3 separate regions of the Homo sapiens genome follow, and all the other regions are linked to region 2. Evidence: fine-mapped expression QTL. A gene starts in region 2. Each other region holds a variant in brackets. All regions are shown on one strand. Distances are from middle to middle. Region 1 overlaps AGA-DT (AGA divergent transcript). Region 2 holds the start of AGA (aspartylglucosaminidase). Region 3 has its middle 49 kb from the start of AGA.

Region 1 (8,186 bases), 44 kb before region 2:
AAACACATTCTCCTGTTGCTCAGTATCAGAGTGTAAACTGAAATGGGTATACTCAACAACTAGCAAAATCCCTACATTGACTCTGAATCACGGAGTGAGGACTAGATGGAACCACAGGCCAATTTGGTGTCTGTGGAATTCCCCTTCCCTAAGATGAGTAAGACCAAAGCAGCATGATATCTCCAGTGGGAATCTGTATATTAGTGCCACTATTAATTACTTAAAAGATGCAGTGATTTTGGTCCCTTATGTGTCCTCTTTCAATTTGCCTTTCAGTCTGTACAGAAAATCAATAAGACTTACAGAAGAATAGTAGATTAGGGAGAGTTTAAGCAATAGTTACTCAAATTCAAGCTGCTGAACCAAATATTGTCTCATAACAGAGCAAATTAAGCCCTTCAGCTTAGTATGCAGCTGGACTATTTTTCCTCTCCATCATACTATATAGAGAATACCAGAAACAGTTTGCTTTCACTGGGCATGGACAGCAGTATATTTTCACTTTCCTGTCTTGTGATATGTCAGTTTTTGTGTAGTATGTGAGCTATGTGTGGTAATTCTATCTCTGTGTCATAATTTAGTCTATAGGAATGATAATGATTTCACCATTCCACAGTAAGTCAAGTTTTACTCTTATACTGATTATTTTTTAAAGATAGAATTTTATGAACACTAACTAAAAGCAATTAACCTAGTGGTCTTGCTAAGACACAAGTAAATAAAAAGGTCCAAGATAAACCCATTAAAATATAGTGCTCAGTGGACTAAATAACATTATAATATCTTTGCCACAGTGAAAGGCAACTTGCTGTACCTTGCATTGCCCACAACTAAGAAAGATAAAGTGCACACCACGGTCCTATTTCAATTTGGTAGGCAACATACAACTTTTGGCATATTTTTCTAAACTAGCAAGCCATCTATAAGGTTGCCAGTTTTGAATGGAATCCAGAGAAAGACAAAGTTTTACAGCTGATAAAGCTGTAGCAAAAGCATCCCTGCCTCTTAGCTCTTATGACTTTGTGGACCCATTAGTACTTGAAATGACTGTAGCAGATCAGGGTACTTAGTGGAGCCAATGGCAGGCTCCTGGAAGAAAATCATAGTAAACACTCATTGAATGCCCCCTGAGGAAAAACCCTCGCTGGAAACAATTTTTCTCTTCTTTTGTACTAACTGCAACCGTATTACTAGGATCTGGTAGACTAAACACTCAATCATGAGATACCAAATGGCCATGCAACCTGACCTGTCCAGCATGAATTAGGTGTTACTGAACCCAGAAAATCATCACGTTGTCAGCAACACTCCATCATGAAGTCAATGTAAAGACATAGGCAAGTTGCATGCAGAGACAACTCAAATTCTCACCATCTCTACTCTTATTGTCCTGCCTCCTCTCCCTCATAAAGTCTCATGAGAATGACTTTTGTTACTACTCGACTGAGGAAGAAAACATTTGGACTTGGTTTACATAAACATGGTATGTTATAACCATGCAGAGGTAGACCAATATAGCATTTCAGGACAGTCAGGGTGTCCCTGATGGACAGTAGGAAAGATTAATCCTCCCAGTGAGCACCAATCCCACCGTGGTTGGGGCACTGTCTTTCAGGATGTGGTATATGCTTCAAACCATCATCTCGTATATGATGCCAAGTCTCTCAAAACCAAAAATACATGAGCCTGGGACCAAGGAATGAAAGTGGCACCTTGCTCTCAAACCTGCTGTCTTGTTCATAATTTTGTTTTCCATCCTGGAACTTTGGTCTCCAGTTGTTTAGAGGTTTCAATACTAATAATGTCCCCAAGACTAATGATCCCTTTCTACATCTTAATTATAGAGCACCCTAAGTATTTAGCACATGGCTGCCCGGTTAGAGACTACATGTTACAATTTTCCATTGCACCTATTAGGTAGTCATGTGGTTAAGTTATGACTAATGGGGTGTGAGCAGAGTGATGCATGCAACTTTCAGGTCAAATCTTTAATAATGGAAAATGCCTGAACTCTACTTTCTTTCCACATTCATATGTAGAAATACATACAAATTCTACAGATGTAATGCAGATGATCCAGTTCTGACCATGCCTGCAAAACCCTACAGCACTACAGAGCAACAAGACAGAACAAGACTGAAGAAGCCCCTATGTAATCTTATAAAGCAGAGATAGTTTTATGCCCTAAACCATCTGCCAGTACTGGACTCATGGGAGGGGAAAAGAGTATCTTGTTTGAGCTACCGTATTTTGTGGTTTCTTCATGGTAGCAGGTTATCTTGTTCTGTAACTGAAACAGTATCCAAGGGAGTAATGTTCTCAACCAAAAAAATAAAAATGATCCCACTGCACTAGCAGATGGCATTGTCGCCTGGTCATTTGGGAGTCCACATGTTACTGAACCGACAAAGGAACAAGGGGTGTTACTGTTTTAGTGGGTGATTAATACATCTTACGGGGAAATAGTCATTGCTATATTGTGAAGACTGAAAGAATATTCTGGAAGATGCAATGCTCTGGGCAAGGTTACTTCCCAATTCTGCTACAACAAGGAAGATTTGAGTTACCCACAAGGAATAAACCCTGATTTGCTATGTGTCATTTGAGGGAAAAGGGAATTTAGAATGGGTGGTGGTGTGTGGTTAATTTTATATGTCAACTTGACTGGGCCATGGGGTGCCCAGCTACTTGGTTAAACATTATTCTGAGTGTGTCTGTGAGGGTGTTTTTGGATAAGATTAATATTTGAATTATTAAACTGAGTAAAGCAGATTACTTTCCATAATGTGGATGGCCCTCAACTAATCAGCTGAAAACTTGAACAAGACAAAATTTGACCCTCCCTTGAGTAAGAGGGAATTACTTCTGTCGGACTGCTTGCACTGGAAAGTTGGTTTTTCCAGCCTTTGGGCTCAGACTGAAATGGTTCATTTTGGGTCTCAAGCCTGCTACCTTTGGACTGGAACTTAGACCACTGTTCTGTTTCTCAGGCCTTTTGACTTGGACTGGTACTACACCATCAGCTCTTTTGGTTTTCTAGCTTGCCAGTTGAAGATCTTCAGACTTCTCCACCTCTATAATAGTGTAAACCAATTATTTATATTAATTAAGTATGTCTCACCATTCTCTCTCTCTCTCTGTCTTTCTATTTCTTCCTTTAGTGGGAGATAGGAGAACTATAAAATGCTATATCAAGAAAGCCAGGGTGATTGATTTCTGCAAAAAGGGTTGGGGGAATCAGTGTTAGTCATTGACAACTTATCAAGGTAGATGAAAATTGAAAAGAGACCATTGTTTGTGTTATGATACAATCACATGTGACGGCTGCTGCTCACTTGCTAAGGAGTTAAG[G/T]TGGAAGGTAGATTATTTAGGGTTGAAGAATGCAAAGATAAAAAGCATAGAGGACAGAAACAGTTTCTGTCAAAGAGTTTTTGTTTTGTTTTGTTTGGTTTGGTTTGGTTAAAAATGTGCATGATAAGTCAGTTCCTCAAGGGAATGGCATGGCTAAAGGAAAATTTCTATTTTATTTTCTGTTTATAAATAAGAGGTCTGGGCCTGTGAATAGGCAGAGAAAAAGAGGTCCATGGGGAGGAAGACATGGAAGATGGAATAGAAAGGGAGGATAATTAATACGGAAGGGTTCAGAAATAATAGAGAAGAATTAGGATGAGAAGATGAGGTTATGCAGGTGGTCTAATCAGAAAATAGAAACAATTATTTTTTCCACAAAATTCACTTACTGTATAAATTTTTAAATTAATGTAACCAATATATCTCTTAATAGTAAGTTTCTCTACTTTCTCTCCTCATCGAAAGGCATACTGAAACATCATTTTGTTGTTGTTGTTTTTGTCGTTACGATGCTGCTAGGAAATTGTGTCTTACTATTCATGTTTCTAGAGAACAAGAGTTCATTGCCAGTCTAATTAAAATTCAGAACAACTCTGTATGTTTTTGAAACATAACTGAAGAATATTTCATCCGGAATACACCTTGCAAGAGAATGTTGAATTCTTTACTCTTCATTTAAATTAAGGTTTTAAAAGAGGTCAGGCACAATATAAGCAGAGGAATACTAATTGAAAAAGCAATCATAAATTTTTTTTCTCTTCTAAATATACTTCAGAAATAGTTCATATAAATTGTGTAGTTCAAGGATACTTTTTCAAAGTACACACAAATTAATTAGTAACAAAATATTAATTATGTGTGTTTGATTGAACTGATGAGGCAAAATAGAATACATCTCAGTGCTTCAAGACCAAATAAAATCATAGCAACTCTTATCTTAGAACACTATTTTTCTCTTTTTATCTTACATTATACAGGTTGATTATTCATACTAAATTCAACAGACACTTTTCTTTACATCATTTTGTGATTCATCCTCATAATTTAGTTTTAAGTCAATGACTTAAAGACATGACGTGGTTTCTCATGAGCCATGAAGGGCAAAATATTCTGTGAATCACACTTTGGGGGCTGTATGGACAAAGAAGCTATTATATTTCAGTCCTTCTGAGATTTCTTCCAAGAAGCCATAGTCTTGACTAAATTATATAAGTAAATCCACAAATCAGAGTGGAACAAGAGCTTCAGAGGAAAGAAGCAGTATTAGTTCCAACCCTGGGGGAGTTCTACTTGGCGACTTTCAAGTTACCATGGTCTTTCTATCTTTTAAAGACAGACAATGGACTAACAGAAACTTTAATGAACAACCTGGCATCTGAGACAAACTTTAAGTTGAGCAAATAAAGTTCATTCAAAGATTGCCAAATTTCTGGAGATTTTAAGTGACTTTCATTTCTCTCTTACTGGAAGAACTATAAATACAGTTTCTAAACACTGTGTACTTAAATACATTCTATTTAGCATTTATAGGCTAAGAAAAATACTAATCATCTCTGTGGTTGGTATCTCATAAGATGGTCACCAAAGAAATCCACCTTCTGGTATTCAGACCCTTGTGTAAATCCTTTCCCTTGAGTGTGGCCCAGACCCAGTGACTTGCTTATAACAAACAAAATGCAGTAAAAGTGATAGAATATCATTTCATCATAAAACAGTGGCTTCCTCTGTGGTGCCCTTTCTTACTTCCTCCATTCCGCAGTCTGAGGGAAGCCAGTTGCCATGTTATAAAATGTCCCATGAGGTCCATGTGACATGGAACTGATGTCTCCATCTGACAACCTACAAACACCTGAGACCTGCCAATCATCACAACAATGACCTTCGAAGCTGATCCTTCCCTATTCAAGACCTAAGATGATTGCAGCCCCAGCTCACAGCTTAGTTGCTGCCTTAAGTGACCCTGAATCAGAGACAAATAGCTAACTAGGTATTCACATGCCTGACAATAGGTTTGTTGTTTTAAGCTGCTAGGTTTGGGGGTAATTTGTTACACAATAGATGACTAATACCATCTGTGCATTCCTAATGTTAGATCTATCCTTGGTATAAGCAAAGCATTTTAACTATTTTTAAACAATTATTTGACTCCAGGCACTGTTCTAAGTGCCTTACAACTATTAACTCATTTAAGCCCTGCAACAAGCCTATGAGGTAAATTCTGTTACTAACTATTTTTGGTAAATGAAGAAACAGGCATCAGATGATCAAACCACTTTTCCAATGGTCAACACTAGAAAGTGGTGAAATCAGAGTCCAAGCTTTTAACTACTATGCTATCCTGTCTTTACAAGTCAATAAGTTTTAAGTATCTTCATTGTTATTAGTTAGGCTCTTCCCCCAAAATAAATTCTTTACAACTTCTAAGCAGTTAGCTTATGAGTTCCTCAAGCCAAGGGAGACCATAAGTGATTAAGACTATATTTTATTCATATGTGTGCGTTCAGCTTACTACCTAGCATGTTCAGGAAATGTCTGTTGAAAATAATTGATTTAGAGGATAGAACAAGACTTAGGGCATGTAAAGAAGAATTCATTCTTTGTGAAATGAAATATTCTAAAGGCCTAATCTATAATTATTGCAACCTAGCCTACAGGAGAAAGTCCAGCTGTACATTTACATGTATGCATTTTCCAGCTTCTGTTTTTTCACTTGCATTTTGTGCAATAAAAAGGAAAGTTTTAAGAGCTAGTGGATGGCAAAGTAATTTATGGTGACTGGAAGTAATCTGGGAACATCAGAAGCTCACCTAGGTGTTGTGAGACCTTACCATCGCTGTTAGCATTCGTACTATGTCACATCTGCATTCTTCTTTGAAGCTGTGTAAACTGGTTCTGGATGAAGCCTTCTGAGTTTGTTTTACAGACAAAATGCAGAATCACTTTCAAGTAGAGCATGAATTGCACCGGACATGCATAAAACTGGGACAATTCTTCCCATCTATAAATGCTCCTTTTTAAAAAAAATAATACACATGAGTTTGGCAATGATGTAAAACAAAAGAAAGAGGAAAAAATTCAGTAGTAAAAAGTTCAGGCAGAAAACACAAAGAAGAAAGAATCCAAGTAGCCTGTGAGCTTTCAACAGTTCAAGGAAAAAGATGTCCTACAGCTGGATCAGTAGCAAGAGATTAACCACTTTAACTGGTCTGCAAAAGGACTTGGTCCACAGAATTAAAGGAGCTCATTTGTGATTCCCTAAGAAAGGCTGCTTTTTTTGTTTTCTCAGAAGAAAGGGGCAATTACTCAAAACAGAGCAATAACAGGAAGAAACCAAGAGGGAAATAAGATTGAGTCACCCCACCCTTTCCACATGGTACCACATCTGTATGCTCAGGCATTTGAACTTCACCTTTCCTTACTAGGAAAAGCTCAAAGATATGGTCAGAAATAGCTCTCAAGTCACCTGAAACGAAGAATCCCCTGCTTAATATCATATTAATAACATTAAAGAAACCCTATAGAAAATATGGAAATGAGATGTGTATTCATCCCAGCATAATTACCACTATATTTTGTGACAGTTTGGAAAAATGGTGGTTATTTCTGCTACTGTGAACTTACAGAATGAAATGTCTCAAAACGATCTCAATAATGTATATTTTCACTTTCCATATTTACTACCATATTTTTGCACATACTCAAAGATTTTATTATCTGGATTGTTACTAAGATACCATAAAGAGGTCATCATGTGCATTGTTTTATACTGATATTTGTATAAAACATACTAATAGACATACAAGTGGAATAATAAATCAAAAAAGTGCAAGAGAATATGTAGCAAAAAAAAAGAGTGGGGAGAAGGATCAGCTGTTAGAACAAACTCTGCCTCAAAATAAAATATAATCATGTGTCGCTTAATGAGGATATATTCTGAGAAATGTATCATAAGACAATGTTGTCATTGCACAAACACCATAGAGTGTACTGACACACCTACTGCACACCTAGACTATATGGGGTAATCTGTTGCCCCTAAGTTACAAACCTGTACAGTGTGTGTGTAACTGTACTACATACTATAAACAACTGTAACACAGTGGTTAAGTTTTTGTGTTTCTAAACTTAGAAAAGATAAAGTAAAAATTAAAGGAGTATAAAAGGTAAAATACAGTAAAAACACAGGTACACCTGTATAGGTGCCTAACTTGAATGAAGCTTGCAGAACTGGAAGTGGAGCTGGGTGAATCAGTGAGTGGTGAGTGAATGTGAAGGCCTAGGGCATCACTGTACACTACTACAGAGTTTATGAACATTGTATACTTAGGCTACAGTACATTTATTTTAAAAGTATTTTTTCTTTCTTCAATAATAAATTACTTAGATTACTGTAACTTTTACTTTATAAACTTTTTAATATTTTAAACTTTTTGACTTTTGTAATAGCACAGCTTAAAACACAAATACAGTGTACAGTTGAACAAAAAAATTTTCTTCCTTTATATCCTTATTCTATAAGCTTTTCCTATTTGAAAATATTTTTTTCACTTTTTGAGCTTTTTTGTTAAAAATAAAGACACGAACACACATAAGCACACACATTAGCTTAGGCCTACACAGGGTCAGGAGCATCAATATCACTGTCCTCCACCTCCACATCTTGTCCTACTGGAAGGTCTTCAGAAGCAATAGTCCATTTGGAGTGTGATAATATGGATAAAATTTTATCCTATGATTATAGGATAAAATTATCCTATGATAATAAAGCCTTCTTCTGGAATACCTCCCAAAGAACCTCCCCGAGGCTGTTTCACAGTTAATTTATATATATATGT
Region 2 (8,186 bases):
AGAATAAGAGAATTTTATTTAATTTGCCTGGTATTACACCATTCTCCCACATCTCCTACCTCATTCACAAAGCTTTGTAAAATAAGAAAGAATACTATTATTATCTCCATTTTATAGATGAGAAAAGCATGGCTTAGGAAGCTTACATGAGTTAACCACAGCTGATACACAGTCACCTTTTTTTAATTTTTTTTTTAATAGAGACAGGAATCTCGCTATGTTGCCCAGGCTGGTCTCAAACTCTTGGGCTCAAGCCATCCACCCACCTCAGCCTCCCAAAGTGCCAGGATTATGGACATGAGCCACTAGGCCTGGCCACACCCTAAGTTTTAAAATCTAAGTCTGGAAAATCCTCCTGAAGTATTGCTAGTTATAAGTAAGCTCTACTTAGGAACAGAAACATTTTGCCAAACAAAATTGTGTAATGCATTCTAAATTTAAATAAAAATACTTTTACAAATAGTTCCTTTGATTTATCAGTAACACTAAATATCTCTGCCCTGTGTATAATGATTTAAAAGAATGAAAAATTGGAGAGGATGCTGGAAAAACTGAGGATCATTTATTTTACGGTCTACTACTGAAACAGGAAAAGTTCCCTTGTCGCCCTTGCAGGGCGTGTGATGGGGGTGTGGCTCGCTTCTTCAGTGTCCTGCTGCTCAAACCTCTATAGGGGCATACAGACGGGCAGATTGTGAGGCTCTGACCCCACAGCAGTGTCTAGGTGTGAATGTTTACAGCTGAAGCCCCAGTGGGCATGTGTTACAGGGTGCTCTTTTAGTTTAACCGTCTGTAGGCGGCTTGTGTTAGCTCAATTAGACCCCTGCCTTATCGCAAAGACAGAGGGCTTTCTGTATCCCGGGTTCTTACCTTGGTGTACGGGAAGAATTGGATCACACGTGGGCTTGAAGAATGAGTGGAAAGTTTTATTGAGTGGAAGTAGCTCTCGGCAGACGGGGGAACCAGAAGGGAGACGGTTTTCTCCTGGAGTCAGGTATGGCGGCCTGACTCTTCTCTGACCTCCCGCGACAAACTCTGCATTCTTCCGCTGGTCAATGGCCTGCCAGCATGCCGGTGTGCTCCTATGCTGGTGCGTTCCTTTCGACATCCAGCAGCCCCTGTATTCTCTGCCTATATGCTCCTCTCAATGTCCAGCTGCTTGTGCGTCTGCCTGCCAGGGTCTCGGGGGTTTTTAAAGGCACAGGATGAGGGCATGGCAGGCCAGGGTGGTCTTGGGAAATGCAACATCCGGGCAGGAAAACAAAAATGCCTGTCTTCACCTAGGTAGGCCCAGGCCCAGGGATGAAGCCCTAGCTGGGGACCACGCCCTCCTCTACCCAGCACTTCCCGCCCCCCTTCCTTATCATTTAAAGGGACCACGCCCTTCCCTTCCCAGCATTCCCTTCCCAGCACTTTCCTGCGGCATCACTACCTGTTAACAGGTGTTCCTTTTCGTTTAGATTTACCTCAAAACAACGGCGAAGGATCTAATTATATTTAGGCCCAAAAGAGCACCTAAGTGAGAGTAACAGAAGGTTACTTCTAGAACTAAAATGAAAATTATTCTTCAAGTGTTAGTCAAAGGAAAACTACTCCAGAAGGAACCAAATATCCAGACGAATTTAACTTAAGAAACAGCTACAATTTAGGCAAACTGGACAGTGGATCCAGTAGGTATTTTAGTAGCCACTAAGAAGACACTGAATCGGGTAGATTCTATAGGGATTGCATATTAGTTATTTAAATACAAATATCCGGCTGGGCACGGTGGCTCACACCTGTAATCCCAGCATTTTGGGAGGTCGGGGGGGTGGGGGCGGTGGGTGGATCACCTGTGTCAGGAGTTCAAGACCAACCTGGCCAAAATGGCAAAACCTGTCTCTACTTAAAATACAAAAATTAGCCGGGCATGGTAGTAGGCAGTAGCAATCCCAGCTACTCAGGAGGCTGGGGCAAGAGAATCGCTTGAATGCAGGAGGTGGAGGTTGCAGTGAGCTGAGATTACACCAGTGAACTCCAGCCTGGGCGATAGAGCAAGACTCCATCTCAAAAAATAAATACATACATACATACATACATACAAATATCCATGGAAAAGTTGATATATTGAGACCTTCTATCAGCCATTCCCACTATAGTGTAATTTAGCTGTTTCTCTGACAGGAATTTTTATTTAAGAAGAAAGAATTTGGAGAAATAGACATAGTAGGAGGTAACAGATCAGGCTCTTTCCACCAGAAGAAACACAAATACCTTAAAAAACAGGAAGAGGCTAGAGAGATCAGTGGGGTACTAAGACCAATTTTCCATGTATTGTATTTTACAATTTTTGCTAAAGGCATGTCCTAATTCCTTAAGGCTGCATAAAAATACTCAGCCCAGGAGCTAAGGAAAATTTACTCAGAGGACAATGTATGTTTTTCTGGCTTTCTTACCCTGTTTCACCCAAGTTTCCAGTTTCACCTGCCATTGGGTTATGATTACTCCAGCACAGATGACTTGTTCCTCTTCCAAACCCCATGAAAGGAACTTAGAAAATTTGTCTTTATTATATCTTTTAATTAACACTTCCCCAACGGGATAATGATACTTCTGGGCTATCTTATGTTCTTTAAATTATGTATTTAATTTCCTAGCAATCAATAAGAGCCTTGAAGGTTTTGTAAGTCTCACAACTCCTACCTAGTTTATATTTTTACATTTATTTATTTATTTATTTTTGAGACAGAATCTCACTCTGTTGTCCAGGCTGGAGTGAAGTGGTGCGATCTCGGCTCACCACAATCTCCACCTCCCGGCTTCAAGCAATTCTGCCTCAGCCTCCCAAGTAGTTGGGACTACAGGCATGCACCACCACGCCCGGCTAATTTTTGTATTTTTAGTAGAGACGGGTTTCACTATGTTGGCCAGGCTGGTCTCGAACTCCTGACCTCGTGATCCACCCACCTCAGCATCCCAAAGTGTTGGGATTACAGGCGTGAGCCATCGTGCCCAGCCTAGTTCATATTTTTAAAGTTTGTATAGATTTATAGATGCTTTTAAAAATTATGTGATTATGTGTCTTGCCTTGGCAACCTGGGCAGGCATTCCAGACACCCAAAGGGATTATTAGTTCATGTTCGCACGTCTGCCCAGCAACAAAACTGAGCAGCCTCCACCAAGCACGTAAAATCCCCATTCCTCCTCTTATTCATTTATTTAGCACTTAATAGTGCCAGGCAGGAAGGTAAAAATACATTTAAAAAGGAATGGAGGTAGCCGTCTTGCCCTGGAGGTGCAGGAAGCTGCACTTCAGTGTGCTAGGTAGAGGGTACATAGGCCGTTTCTGTTTTTCTTCCAGCTCAGGGATTTATAATGAGAGGAAGTGCTACAAAAAGCTGTGGTGCGAAAATGACGGACGCTATGAATGGAAAAAAAATCTAAAATCAATCCGGTCCTAAGCAAACACGCTTCACCTACACTCATAACTATTGCAGACCTCCGAGGCCTGGGATCCCCAAGAATATACTGAGTTTGACAAACTTTTCAACTTCAACTTTAAATTAAAAAGACAGTAAAAGAACCAAATCCATAGTACACAGCAATCGGCTAAAGTTCCTGGGGCCCTGCAACCCAGAGTTGAATAATTTTGTATTAAATTCCCAATATCAAGCTAAATCTATTTTAACCACAGGAAAAGCAGCAACTTGTCTGGCTATTTTAAAAATCTGAACAGCACTTAGGAAGAAGCACCTTAGCGCAGGGAACAGCTCAGTGCCCCGTGACACAACTCTCCCGCGGGCCCAGGGACGCCTCGTCTCGCGAGAGTTGAGGGACGCCTGAGCGAACCCCCGAGAGAGCGGGCGTGGGCGCCAGGCGGGCGGGGCACTGGGGATTAATTGTTCGGCGATCGCTGGCTGCCGGGACTTTTCTCGCGCTGGTCTCTTCGGTGGTCAGGGATGGCGCGGAAGTCGAACTTGCCTGTGCTTCTCGTGCCGTTTCTGCTCTGCCAGGCCCTAGTGCGCTGCTCCAGCCCTCTGCCCCTGGTCGTCAACACTTGGCCCTTTAAGAATGCAACCGAAGCAGGTGCGGGTTGGCGGCCTGGGCGGGCGGCTGCGCCGCGAGAGCTTGCGGGTGGGGATGACTAGCCCGCCCCGCTGCAGTCACCCGGCAGGGCGGACGGAAGAGCGCCGGGCTGGGCCGGGCCTCGCGGTCCCGCCCTCTAGGTCTTCCCGAGTCTCCAGCGCCGCTCAGTCTCTTGCAAGTGGCCTTTACTGCATCCTCCCCACCTACCGCTGTTGCATTTTAGGTCCTCCCTTCATGCAGCCCCCAGCGCAATGTATTTTCCACCCTGCTGCTGACCATAGTTATGGCCTTTGTGCTTTAATCAAGTAGCAGCTACGCTTTTCTGCCTGACAGTCTTTTCACGGGCTGTGTACGTCTCCACCTCTCGTTTCTAATCCTTCACTTCTTTGCAATTTTGTAGACGACTAATAGTGTCCCAGCCATAGCCTACTCTTTTCCCATTTACTTTTTTTGCCACGTGTTGTCATACTTTACCTGCCACTTAGAATTCAAGGTTCCAACCTTTGCTGTACATTCACACTATCTGGGGAGCTTCTCAAAAATCATCCTGCCGGGGCCCACCTCCTGTGACTGTGATCTAACTGCTGGAATCAGGGCCACTGTTTTTCTTTAAAAAGCTCCCTAGGTGATTTCGATTTGCAGACAGGGTTGAGAACCACTAAGCTAAGGTATCACCTCTTCCAGGAAGCGTTCCCTGACTTAACTGCCCTCGTGTCCAGAATGAGTTAGGTTCCTGCCTTCTACACCTTGTTAATAGCCTTTACGTACCATTATCTTGGCATTTTCGCATTGTACTATGCTTGTTTCTTTCATTTGCTTAATGACCAGAAGAGTCATTTTCAGACCCCTCCTCCTCCATCTGAGGTTGCTAACGTATTAACTTTCTAGGGCAGAATTGGCTCCAGAATTTGGTGGCAGTGCATACGATTCAGAGAAAATGAAGAAGCAGGCTGTGAGAAAGATATTCCCAGCCATAATGAGACGAAAAGAAATTGCATCAGCCTGGGCGGGGGACAGTTCTGTGTTTAAGTTGCCTGTATTGAAAGAGGGAACTTGCGTAAATACACTTTCAAGCCTGTAGGTGCTGTAGTGTTTACCAACCAGAGCACCCACTCTTCAAGGAATTCTGTTGTTACCAGAAAAGAAATTGTCCATCAAAGACCCTTCCCCCCACACCCCCAAATGTATGGGATCCTGGCTCTGCTACTTACCAGCTGTGTGACCTTAAACTAACTGCCTGACCTGTGGCTCTGTTTACTTTTCTTTAAAATGAGGGTCGTGATTGTACAGTACCTACCACAGAAGCTGTTATGAAGACTCAATGAACTAATCCATATGAAGTCCACGTTGTAATTGTTTGCTGTTCAGTATTATTAAGACTTCCTGGGATAGGTGTTACCTCAATACACATATCAATTATGCATATTTTAATCTAATGATGCAGAAGAAATGTGTGAAGAAGGCTGCGGTTTAGTGGATTTTTTATTTAACTGCCTTTTAGTGGTTTCGATTGTACCTTTTAAAATAAAGGAGGGGATACTGATTTCGTTTCTCGCACACAGAAGAGATAGATATTAGTAAGTGAAAAAAAAAAAAACCTTCAGCTTGCACCAATAGCCAGTTTTTTGAGTTCTTCTGATAACTAGTTAAATAATTTTGACTCTTCACTGACTCCTTTGTAACACTTGATAAACTAATGTGTTAAAAAATCAGCTTAACTCAGTAAATGTGAAAAAGTTGTTAAATTGGAGTTGGTTTGTTGCATTTGGCATTGAAAAAAAAATATATATATAAACAAGCATTATTGGGATTTGATTAACAGCGTGGAGGGCATTAGCATCTGGAGGCTCTGCCCTGGATGCAGTGGAGAGCGGCTGTGCCATGTGTGAGAGAGAGCAGTGTGACGGCTCTGTAGGCTTTGGAGGAAGTCCTGATGAACTTGGAGAAACCACACTAGATGCCATGATCATGGATGGGTAAGAACACCGTTCAGGTCCTATTTATTATGTTGAGTTACATTTAGAGTTGTGGTCTTCTGAGAGCAAGATGAAAGAATGCATGAGTTTTGACACAGATCAAAACCCCTAGCTTATTATACTTGACCTTTCTAAACACAGTTTCCCTCTCAACTGAAAAAAAAAAATCAGAGTAATAGAAATATCACATGGAGAGATAGGTAGTCCCTTAGAACTGGGAGAATGCCAAGCTAAAAAACTATGTCTCTGACCTTATAAACAATCATTTATCTGCTGTCCACAAATGCTGTGGTTTGCCTGACCTGAAGCCTTCAGGCCCCTTTCAAAAGCCATATTTAAAATTAGCTTGGAGAAACTGAGAATTTTAGTGCTGTTGTGGTACATGGCAAGTTGATTTTCTATTTTTTTTCCTTAATTTTGTCTGATTGTGGGAATCTATATGAACTTCGTGGATGTGCTGTCACTTCTGTGTTAAGATGGTGGAGTTTAACCGCAAAACACTATTGATTGGAGAAAAGCAATGTTTTTAATCTATGAACCTCTGAAAACTCCTTAATTCCTAACTGCATTCTATTTTCTTGCAGCACTACTATGGATGTAGGAGCAGTAGGAGATCTCAGACGAATTAAAAATGCTATTGGTGTGGCACGGAAAGTACTGGAACATACAACACACACACTTTTAGTAGGAGAGTCAGGTATTTTTTTAACTACACTGAAATTTTTTCTAGTCTTTTGACTATAGTTTTCACTGAAAAATAGTACAAAATCATGGATAAAACCAGATCTAAGTTCAAATTCCAGCTGTTTTACTTAACATCTATTGAACTGGATAAGTAACTTTTAAATCTCTTTACTTCTTCATCTCTAAGAAGAAGGCAATGGAAGTTTTGAGACGGAGTTTCGCTCTTGTCACCCAGGCTGGAGTGCAATGGCGCGATCTCAGCTCCCGACAACCTCTGCCTCCTGGGTTCAAGTGATTCTCCTACCTCAGCCTTCCAAGTAGCTGGGATTACAGGCACGTGCCACCATGCCCAGCTAATTTTTATATTTTTAGTAGAGACGGGGTTTCACCATGTTGGCCAGGATGGTCTCAATCTCTTGACTTCGTGATCCACCCGCCTCAGCCTCCCAAAGTGCTGGGATTACAGGTGTGAGCCACCGCGCCTGGCCGGGACGAGAACTCTTATAATGCATGCCCCAAAGGTTTTAAGTGGATCTGTTTTAGGAAAGGCATAAGGAAATCGAAGGTCTAAAAATTGAGTCTCTTAAAACTGTTCATGTGTGAATATTCCTTTGAAAGTCTTTGTGTAGCTCACTTAAGATGCTGCTGACCCAGAATGTCTCTAGTACATATATTTTTGTTGAAAAGACAATACTTGAATAATTTATACTTTCCTTTTTTCCAATCTCCAGCCACCACATTTGCTCAAAGTATGGGGTTTATCAATGAAGACTTATCTACCACTGCTTCTCAAGCTCTTCATTCAGATTGGCTTGCTCGGAATTGCCAGCCAAATTATTGGAGGGTATGCACACATTTAATTTAAAAAAATAAGTTAATTGAAAATATTCAGTGACATCCTTTCTGCTCAGTGTTGCCTGCCTGTTGTCCAGGGTACTGGTTAGCATCCTGGCTGTACATTAGAACTAGTGGTTTTAGTTGACTCTCCAGGTATGGATGTTCCTGAAACACCTCTAGCTGCATTGGGTGCATATCCAGCATGGAGAGCTACTGGTCTCTCACAATAGTTTTCAAACTGAAGTTTCTGCCATGTGGAGGTGGCTGCCTCAATCAGGGCTGCTCTGCTTGTATTTCTTTCTAACTAAGTCTAAAAAATCAGTTTGGAAACTATGAGTCTAAAATATTTCTTAGATTTTACGTGCAGTGTATCCAGTATCTTGTTCTTGACTTGAGGACATGTAATATTACATGTCTAGTATGTTACCAGTGGAATAATTTTTCTTTAATGAGACTTTTGGCATAAATCAGTTTGCCTTTGCCGTACAGGGTCCTTCTGTGGGATATCTTAGTCTCTCATCTATTTCTTCCCTAAGTCCTAATTACTTTCGAGTAGCCATCAAGTCAGAAGTCCCTTGGGTTAGCACTTGAAAGAGGCTAATCATAAAACGAAGTTAGGGGAGG
Region 3 (8,186 bases), 49 kb after region 2:
ACTAATGATAAAATAAGGTTGACGATAAGCCATTAATAGAAGTATAAGCAAATTATCATGAAGGTATATCTGAAGACAGATCATTTTGATCGGAGAACATATGGGAAGACCTAGAAAGCAGAATTTGAATGGGGCCTTGAAGGAAGGGTAGGACTTCAACAGTTGGAGTATCAGGTAATGGCATTACTAGTAGTGGGAACAGTTTGAGTAAAGTCTAAGGACATGTTAGGCAAGGAGAGACTGGTTATATTGGTGGGTAGGGTCAGGAGAAAAGAAATGGAGCAACAAGCCTTGAAAAAGGGACAGCATCCAACTCTCTGGGGGGACTGTGTAATGTTTTTGCATTTTTTCTTCCTTGGAATCATGGAAGTTTTTTGTGTGTTTTTTTACAAGAAACTTTTACAATCTAAGTACTTTGTACGGAAGAAGTGGCTTTGGTGCTAGAAAAAAATAGCACTTAAATAATTTCTACCCTTCAAAACTGAGAGTTGTCATCGTCTTAAATTCTGGACAAAGGTAGTTTTGTTTTTTCTTGATTGCCCTAATAAGGAGGAAGAATACACACTAGCACTGTAGATTCACTGCATTGTTCAACACCAACTTGCATGCAAGGTAGGTAGTATGGTGGTATCACTGGGACAATAAGAATCCAGAACATTTTCTCTCTGTCCAATGTAATCTATGACTCTAGAAAATGAAAAATACTTGTCTTGGCAAAGAAGCACAACTTCCCATTCTGAGCAGCTGCTCAGACCTTTGAGACTTATTCAAGGGGGCATCCCAATAACGTTGCACAGCAAGTCTCTAGTCTCTTCCTTGCACAGAAAAACAAATCCAGCTAAATATGCACATAATTTCCAGAAATACAGTCTGAAGAATGTGGCCTTCATTTCTTGAAAGGCCTTAGTAAATGTCAGTGATCTAAAAAGTAGACTCCAATGCCACATCAAGGACCATGCTTGCTAGAAACAGCTCATTTACAATTTGAGGAAAAGAGTCAGAAATGAAATGTAGGAATATAGCTTTTTAGACATCTTAGCAGTTGATTCTTGATAGGATGGATGTTTAAAAGTTCTAGCATTAATGATATTTACAATAGCACAATATGAAAGCATCAAGGTCACTTCCCAAATGTTCTTTCACTATGTTGCTTTCCAGAAGGGTAAATATGACAGAGTGTCTAGAAGCTGCCTAACAGTGGTTTTATCATAAATTCTGAATGATAAATGACTTTCAGACAGTCCTAAGCATCCCACAATGGGCTCTAATAGTACTGAGAGAAAATTTTACGATGAATACAAATCACCCCTAAAGCCCGTAATACATCATGCTGAGTAATATCACAATAAGAATGGGAAAGAAAATGAAACTTTAAATAGGCATATGCTTTTATGTACTTTGACTTGAATTTGTATTCTTTCCACCCACTCCCTCAATCTAACAATAAATATTACTCTGGAAAATAAGAAAACACCTTAAACATTTCTTGGAAAATTTGATTTGTAAAAAAAAACACAAAATCTGTACTATAAGAGATTAACATTACAATTTTTCTTATTGGTTAAATCGAGAATAATGATAATGCTTCCACATGCTCCCTTTTGAAAAGAGTTTTACATGTATTCTCATTTGAACTTTATAATAACTTAAAATAATAGACATTCCCATTTTATAGACAAAGGAATCAGCACATTTAAATGACACTTTGGCTAGCTCACAGGTTAATGAATGATAAAACCAGGAGTAGGAACTTCCGTCTCTTGAAAATTGAATAACAGTCTTACCAACTACCTAAGGGGTAGGAACTTCGGTCTCTTGAAAATTGAATATTAGTCTTACCAACTACCTAAGTTCAACATAAAATAATTTTGGGACCACTGTTATAGTAAATATTGCTGTGTAAAAAGTGATCCCTTAACTTGGAGGTGTTTTGTTTGATGTTGCTCAGGAGTATTAAATAATTTGTGGCTTTTATTTCTCAACCATCACTATCCCTAACGTCATTTTCCCCTCTGCTTTCATTTGAGCCAAATATAATACTTATTAATATATCTGACCTGAGTTTATGATAAATTTCCTAATAAAACTCAAACACCAAACCCAATCCATTCCTTTGGAGGTAAGATAAACTCTGTGTGATTCCATCTCTTAAAAAATCTGCTTAATTTGCTTTTGTGTTCAAAATAAAACAATTTTGATTAAGAAACTGCCATTCTATGATTAGTGAAGCCCACATAGAATAACAGCAGAAGGAAAGTGGTGATTCCAAAGGGAAGAGAAAACCGAATCACCTCACTTCTCAAGTAAGTGAACTCAGTGCTTTCTGTGCAAATTTTATTTTCTGTGCAAATGACAAGAAAGATAAAGGAGTAAATGTCTGTGAAGTTTATAAAATGGTTATTTTTTTCACTTAATGGCAGTTTGGTACCTTTTTTAAAAGCTGCTTGGGAAGAAAGTAGATCACCTGGTTGGATTGAAAACATTCTAACTAATGGTACTAGGCAGTGAATTATAATATTGTCTTCTCAGTATGCTCTATGGCCAGAATGGTATGCACACACACATTACTCTGTATCAGTTATTTTTTAAATTCAGGTGACCTGCTTATAACTGATAGATGGGAAAAAGTACAATTAAATGTAAGATATTTAATTTGGTCTTATGCAATAGCTTACATTTGTGTTCCATGTTAAAGTTTTTCAAGTGTTTTCCCAGATTTGATTCTTTTGATCCTAACAACCACCTTGGGAGGTAGATAGAATCACTATTTGTAATTCACATTTTGCTGATAACAAATGAGGTTTGTAAAGGCTGAATGGCTTGCCTACCAAGCTCCTAAAAGTAGGCAGAAGGAGAACTAGAATCAAGACCTGCTTTATCCAGTGGCTTCTCTATTTATTTTTTGAGGAGTCTGGCTCTGTCACCCAGGATGGAGTGCAGCGGTGCGATCTTGGCTCACTGCCTCCTGAGTTCAAGGAAGCAGTGAGCCTCCTTGACCTCTGCCTCCTGGGTTCCAGCAATTCTCCCACCTCAGCCTCTGGAGTAGCTGGGATTACAGGCTTTTGGCACCATGCCTGGCTAATTTTTTTGTATTTTTAGTAGAGATGGGGTTTCGCCTTGTTGGCCAGGCAGGTCTTGAACTCCTGACCTCAAGTGATCCACCCGCCTCGGTCTCCCAAAGTGCTGGGATTACAGGCATGAGCCACCGTGCTCAGCCTCCAGTGCTTATTCTATCAATCTGCAAACGCAGGAAGAGCAACAGGACAGTACAAAAGAGGAATCTTGTAAGTTCAGGTATTTGGCCAGAATAGGCCTGAGCGTATTTAAAAATCCAGGTTATTAGGAGAACCCAAGGTGTTTCAGGAAAGAAAATATGTGGCAGAAAAAAAAGTAGAGGGAAAAAAGCATTAGTTCAGGATTTGAATAGTATGCAATTAACCAGTGATATGCTTTAAAATCTCCCTTTAGCCTTTATTTGTGTGGCATACAATGACCAGACCAAGCCACTCTTATTTTTCCTCTAGCATTCTCTGGAGCTAATTAATTAATAGATATCTTCTGTCAGTTCTTCTCAAGTTCAGCAGGTTATTTGAAGCATTAACCCTCATAGGCTTTGAGAAAGAAAAGAAACAGTCTGCAAGACATAATTGCAAATGTGTAAAATTATGCCAGTGAAAGGTAATATGTAAAAATGAAATAGCTGAGCTAGGACTATTGGGAGACACTCTGGTTTTTTAAAAGACGTTGTTAACATTTGTATTTTCAGTTTTAAAATAAACCTGACTGATTCCTCAAAGCCTAGCTTTGAGTAAAATGATGATATAGAGAACATGGAGACAGTGAAGATATAGTAATACCTGCACTGCTGCCTAGAGGATTGTGAATTTTACTCTACTTTTTGTTTTGTGATCATTTACAAGCTAGTGATGAAAGGAGATTTTACATGGCTCTAAAGTTGATTCTTGTAGAGTGTAAGTTTGAATCCACAAACCCCCATATACTAAAAAATGTTGTTTACTTGAAGACAAATTAGTCTCTGAGCCCCCTTCTAACTTGCCTAATGGGGAATTCAATCTCCATCACGGTGAGTGCCCTTCTAGTTTAGGGTCCTCAACGTTCTTTGGGCAGGGAGAGACTCACCCAGAGTAGCCTAGATGGGGACAGTCCTCCTATGACCAGCCCACCTATATGCCTTACACGTGTTCATGTTCAGACCCACGTATCCTCTGAGGTTCAGGTTTGTTACTCCTGTGCCCCTCACAGCCTGGGACAAAGCTGAGACCCTCTAACTGGAGTACAGTCCACCGAGCTCACACTGCAGCAGTTTCCTTCTAGAGCACTGTGCTCAAAGGCCCTGGTCTCCCTGCCTTCTGCTCTAGTACAGACCCCTAGAGGAGCTCAGGATTCTTGAAAACAAAGATCAC[G/T]AGAAAGAGTTCACCACAAACCACACTTACTCCCCGCCTTCCTTCTGCATGAAGCTTCCCTCGTGCACAGCGGCACAAAGGCCTAGCTACGTGCTTGGTCAAGTCAGAGAGAAGCAAGAGGAAAGCAACAATTCAAATCCATATAGCTATAAATTATGCAGCCAGAATAATTTTCATCTCTTGGCCCTCTAGAAAAGCAGATATGGGGTCACCAAAAATGCAGGATCTGGCCATTTCTTTCCCAATATTCCCTTTCTTCATTTTTACAGCTTTAAAATGGAAATGATCTCTGAAGGGGTTAAGCCTCATCCATTCGCTGGTGTGAATATTCTAGTTAGATGAACATCCTTCTTAATTACCAAATTAGAGATATTTGATTGGGATGGGTGGAAGGAGGAGAGATGGGATGGAGGTCAGGACTAAAGGGGGCAACCCACAGGCAGAATGGGAGAGTGGGGAAGCATTGGCTAGCAGAGGACAAACAGGAGGGCTGCAAATAGTGGTGGTTTGGAAGGTGGTAAACCTTTGATTTCCCCAACTCACGGCCTCTCTCTTAATCCAGACCACCCTAGCCCAGCTTTGTGTTTTCCCGCATCTTTCCTACTAAAAATACAAAAAACTAGCCAGGAGTGGTGGCAGGTGCCTGTAATCCCAGCTACTTGGGAGGCTGAGGCAGGGGAATTGCTTGAACCCAGGAGGTGGAGATTGCAGTGAGCTGAGATTGCACCACTGCACTCCAGCCTGGGCAACAGAGCAAGCCTCCATCTCAATAATAATAATAATAATAATAATACTATAGCATGCTTTTTTCCCTGAGATTGATCAAGAGACTCAGATACAAGCATATACAGTAGTTACTCAGAATTTCAAGGGATATAATGGTAGGGGAGACCTCTAGATGACAATTACAAGGAAGAAAACAGATTTTTTTATATAACTTACCTTCTAGCTAATTCTCCCACATTAACTAGGGCAAGAAATTCTGAAATACAAATGTGTATCATAGGAGAGATTATAGAAATGCAAATGATTAGAACTAAAGTAATGATGACTGAGGGATATGATTTCCTTGCTGGGTACAAACGTGTCACAGCACTATAGGAGAGACCCAGGGAACAGCTGTTATGTGACTAAGGAGGTATTAGCGGCATAGACAAAGGTACATGTGCTTGGTTACTCAACTTTAAAAAACAAACTATGACAAAACGCTGGAATTGTAAAGCAGAGTCAATAATCAGCAGGAAATCTGTACACTCTTTGAAAACAACCCGGAGCAAACTCAGGAAAAGTGTGTGCTATGAATCAAAAAGAAAGATTGTGTAACACCTTGCCTTTGCTGCCACCCTCCACTCTCATCTTTCTTCTGCCCACCTTTCTGCCTTCCGCTACCGCTTTTTTTCTTTTCCCATCACTACCCCCCTCCAACTTCCTATACAGAGAAACTCACAGATAGCAGTTAACTGGCAAGTAATATAGGCTAGTATTATCAAAAACATATCTTTTCAAAGATGGTAAGTTTTTCCAGATGAAAACAAGACAAAGAAAACCCACATATATTGTGGCAGGTTAGGAACAATCTAGGAATTTAGAAAGCCAGAGATAATTCAAACTGAACCTACTGGCATTCTTTTATTCTTCTCGTCTTTGTTTCCCTTATCTATCTCTCTTTGCAACCGAATTGCCCCAAATCTAAATTGTGAAGACTGCAACTTCTGGAGCATCTCCTATAAGCCAAAATAAATGTATTTCCTTTGATGCTTGAAGCAACAAATAAGATAGATATTACAACCTTTATCTTGAAAATGAAAGCACTAAAGCTCAAAGACCTTCAGTGATTTGCCCAGGGCCACCGAGCTGGCAAGTGGGCGGCAGTGGATCTTACCCCATATTTGTCTGCATTCCATTCATCACAGCCCACGGTTCCCCCCAGCAGACCTCATTGCCTCTTATCCATGTTATTGCAAGAGCTTTCCTGCTTTCAGTCTCATATTTTTCTTTCAACCCAGCCCTCACAGTACTTACAATATAATTTGCCCAATCAAAGCTTTCCTGTCTGAAATAAGTTGGGACATCTATTTGATCTGTACTTTCAGAAGAATATGGTGGACGGGAAAGGGGTCATAAGGAGTGCAATTACAGAAATCAAGAGAAAGCAGAGGCAGTGAATGACAATTGACTAACTGAATTAGGACTCTGGAAAGTTGAAGTGGAGAAGAGATGCGACAGAAGCCAAAAATGTTAGAAGGAAGGGAAGGGAGTGAAGAGATGTGGCAGTGAGCCGGCAAAATGCCATGCAGGTGAAAGGGGTGACGAATGAGGGAAACTTTAAAGGTCTAAAAGGAAGAGCAGCTAATAGGATGTATATAAAACTTCTAGAAAAGTCTACCATTTTGAGATAGTAAGTGTAAAAAACATAAATGACTTCAGGTTGGCTTTGGACACATTTATAGATCATAGTCTTATAAAATACTATTAATGGAAGCCTCTGATATTTGGAATAAACTTTAATTTTTCTGAGGTGAATATCATCAAGAACAGTTATCCTTTCTTTTTTAGAGGACACTTTGCAGCTATAGTCAGAGATAGAGTTACAGGCAGAATGGTTGAGAATCTCACCCTATGGGGAAAGGCAGCGTAGCTCAATTCTGTCTATGACTCTGCCACTGACTTACGTGGTCAGTTTACATGTTCTTTCTAAGCCTGAGGTTTAATATCTGCAAAATGAGGGGAATGATAATTTCTGCCTCAGAGAATGGTTATGAGAACTAAAAAAATATATATGTATGGGCTTGGCACAGTGTTTAGGACATGGTAAGCATTTACATGCTTACCATTTGAATATGTAACAATTGAATAATTGTTGAGTATCTGTGAGCCTTCCCTATGATTTTGAAGTAAGGAAGAAAAGCAAGGAAGCAGGTAAGGAAGAAAAAAGAGAGAAAGACAGTAAAGAAGAAAGGGAGGAAGGGAGGGAGGGAAGGAGGGAAAAGAAAGGGAGGGAAAAGGGATTTAAAAAAAAACTGGAAATAAGGCAGGAGATTTCAAACAAGAAATTTGTAGTGTAAGGAAAGTAAAACAAACTGAACATCAAAATTGCTCGGTAAACATGAAAACTGGATGTGAAAAATTAAATTAATAGAAATGATTGAAACAGAAAGTAACCAAATAATCTGACAAGTTAATGTGTCATTAGGTAACAATTTGCAAGGAAGAAAAGACAATAAAATGAAAAAAAAATGTGCAGATGTAACATATTCCCCAAGATATTCCCAAAGTGACACTAGGCACTGTCAAAGATAAAAGCCTAGTGAGCTTGAATTTACACAGCTTAGACATTCCAGCCTAGTGGTCCAATAAGAAAACAGGAAGGCGAGGACTGCAATTAGATATAAAGGTGGTTATGGAAAGAAGCACCATGCTTGGACTGGTTTAATATTGCCTCACTATTTCATAACATTCTCATGTGTAGTTACTTTAAATAACATATTTGAAACAATGGTAATAAAAAGGAAAGTGAAAATAATATTAATAAATAAAAGAAAAGCAGATATTATGAAGTCAGTTAAACATCAGGCCTGACCTTTTACTATTTGTCCGAAAGCATCGGGAGAGTTAATTTAGCCAATTTTAATGGAAACTTTAACTGCTTCATGCTCAATAAGGCTATGAAGTTGTTCCCTGTGGCAGCTCTGAAAGACAACTGTGGAAAACCAGTTATGCCTGAGACATTTATTTCCAGCCATTTCCTTTGCCTGCCTGAAA

The links. PIP is the estimated chance that this variant, and not a neighbour inherited with it, causes the effect.
Region 1: its variant is fine-mapped to the expression of AGA in whole blood (INTERVAL, PIP above 0.99).
Region 3: its variant is fine-mapped to the expression of AGA in whole blood (INTERVAL, PIP above 0.99). The same link has a PIP of 0.9 or more in CD4 T cells.

What each region holds. Positions count from the first base shown.
Region 1 is chr4:177,481,973-177,490,158 of GRCh38, reverse strand. The region is part of intron 1 of AGA-DT (AGA divergent transcript); the gene reads right to left. Among named protein-coding and RNA genes, the nearest start is that of AGA-DT, 41 kb to the right of the region's middle. The variant G/T (reference allele first, on the strand shown) is at 3,352.
Region 2 is chr4:177,438,128-177,446,313 of GRCh38, reverse strand. AGA (aspartylglucosaminidase) reads left to right here and starts at 3,877. Exons shown (of 9, transcript NM_000027.4): 1 at 3,877-4,065; 2 at 5,888-6,041; 3 at 6,626-6,738; 4 at 7,457-7,569. The coding sequence starts at 3,939. It overlaps AGA-DT (AGA divergent transcript), which reads right to left and starts at 1,304. Exons shown (of 4, transcript NR_183779.1): 1 at 871-1,304. RefSeq lists enhancers at 3,212-3,291, 3,382-3,925, 4,752-4,831.
Region 3 is chr4:177,389,627-177,397,812 of GRCh38, reverse strand. No RefSeq gene overlaps it. Among named protein-coding and RNA genes, the nearest start is that of AGA, 49 kb to the left of the region's middle. RefSeq lists a silencer at 4,384-4,443. The variant G/T (reference allele first, on the strand shown) is at 4,425.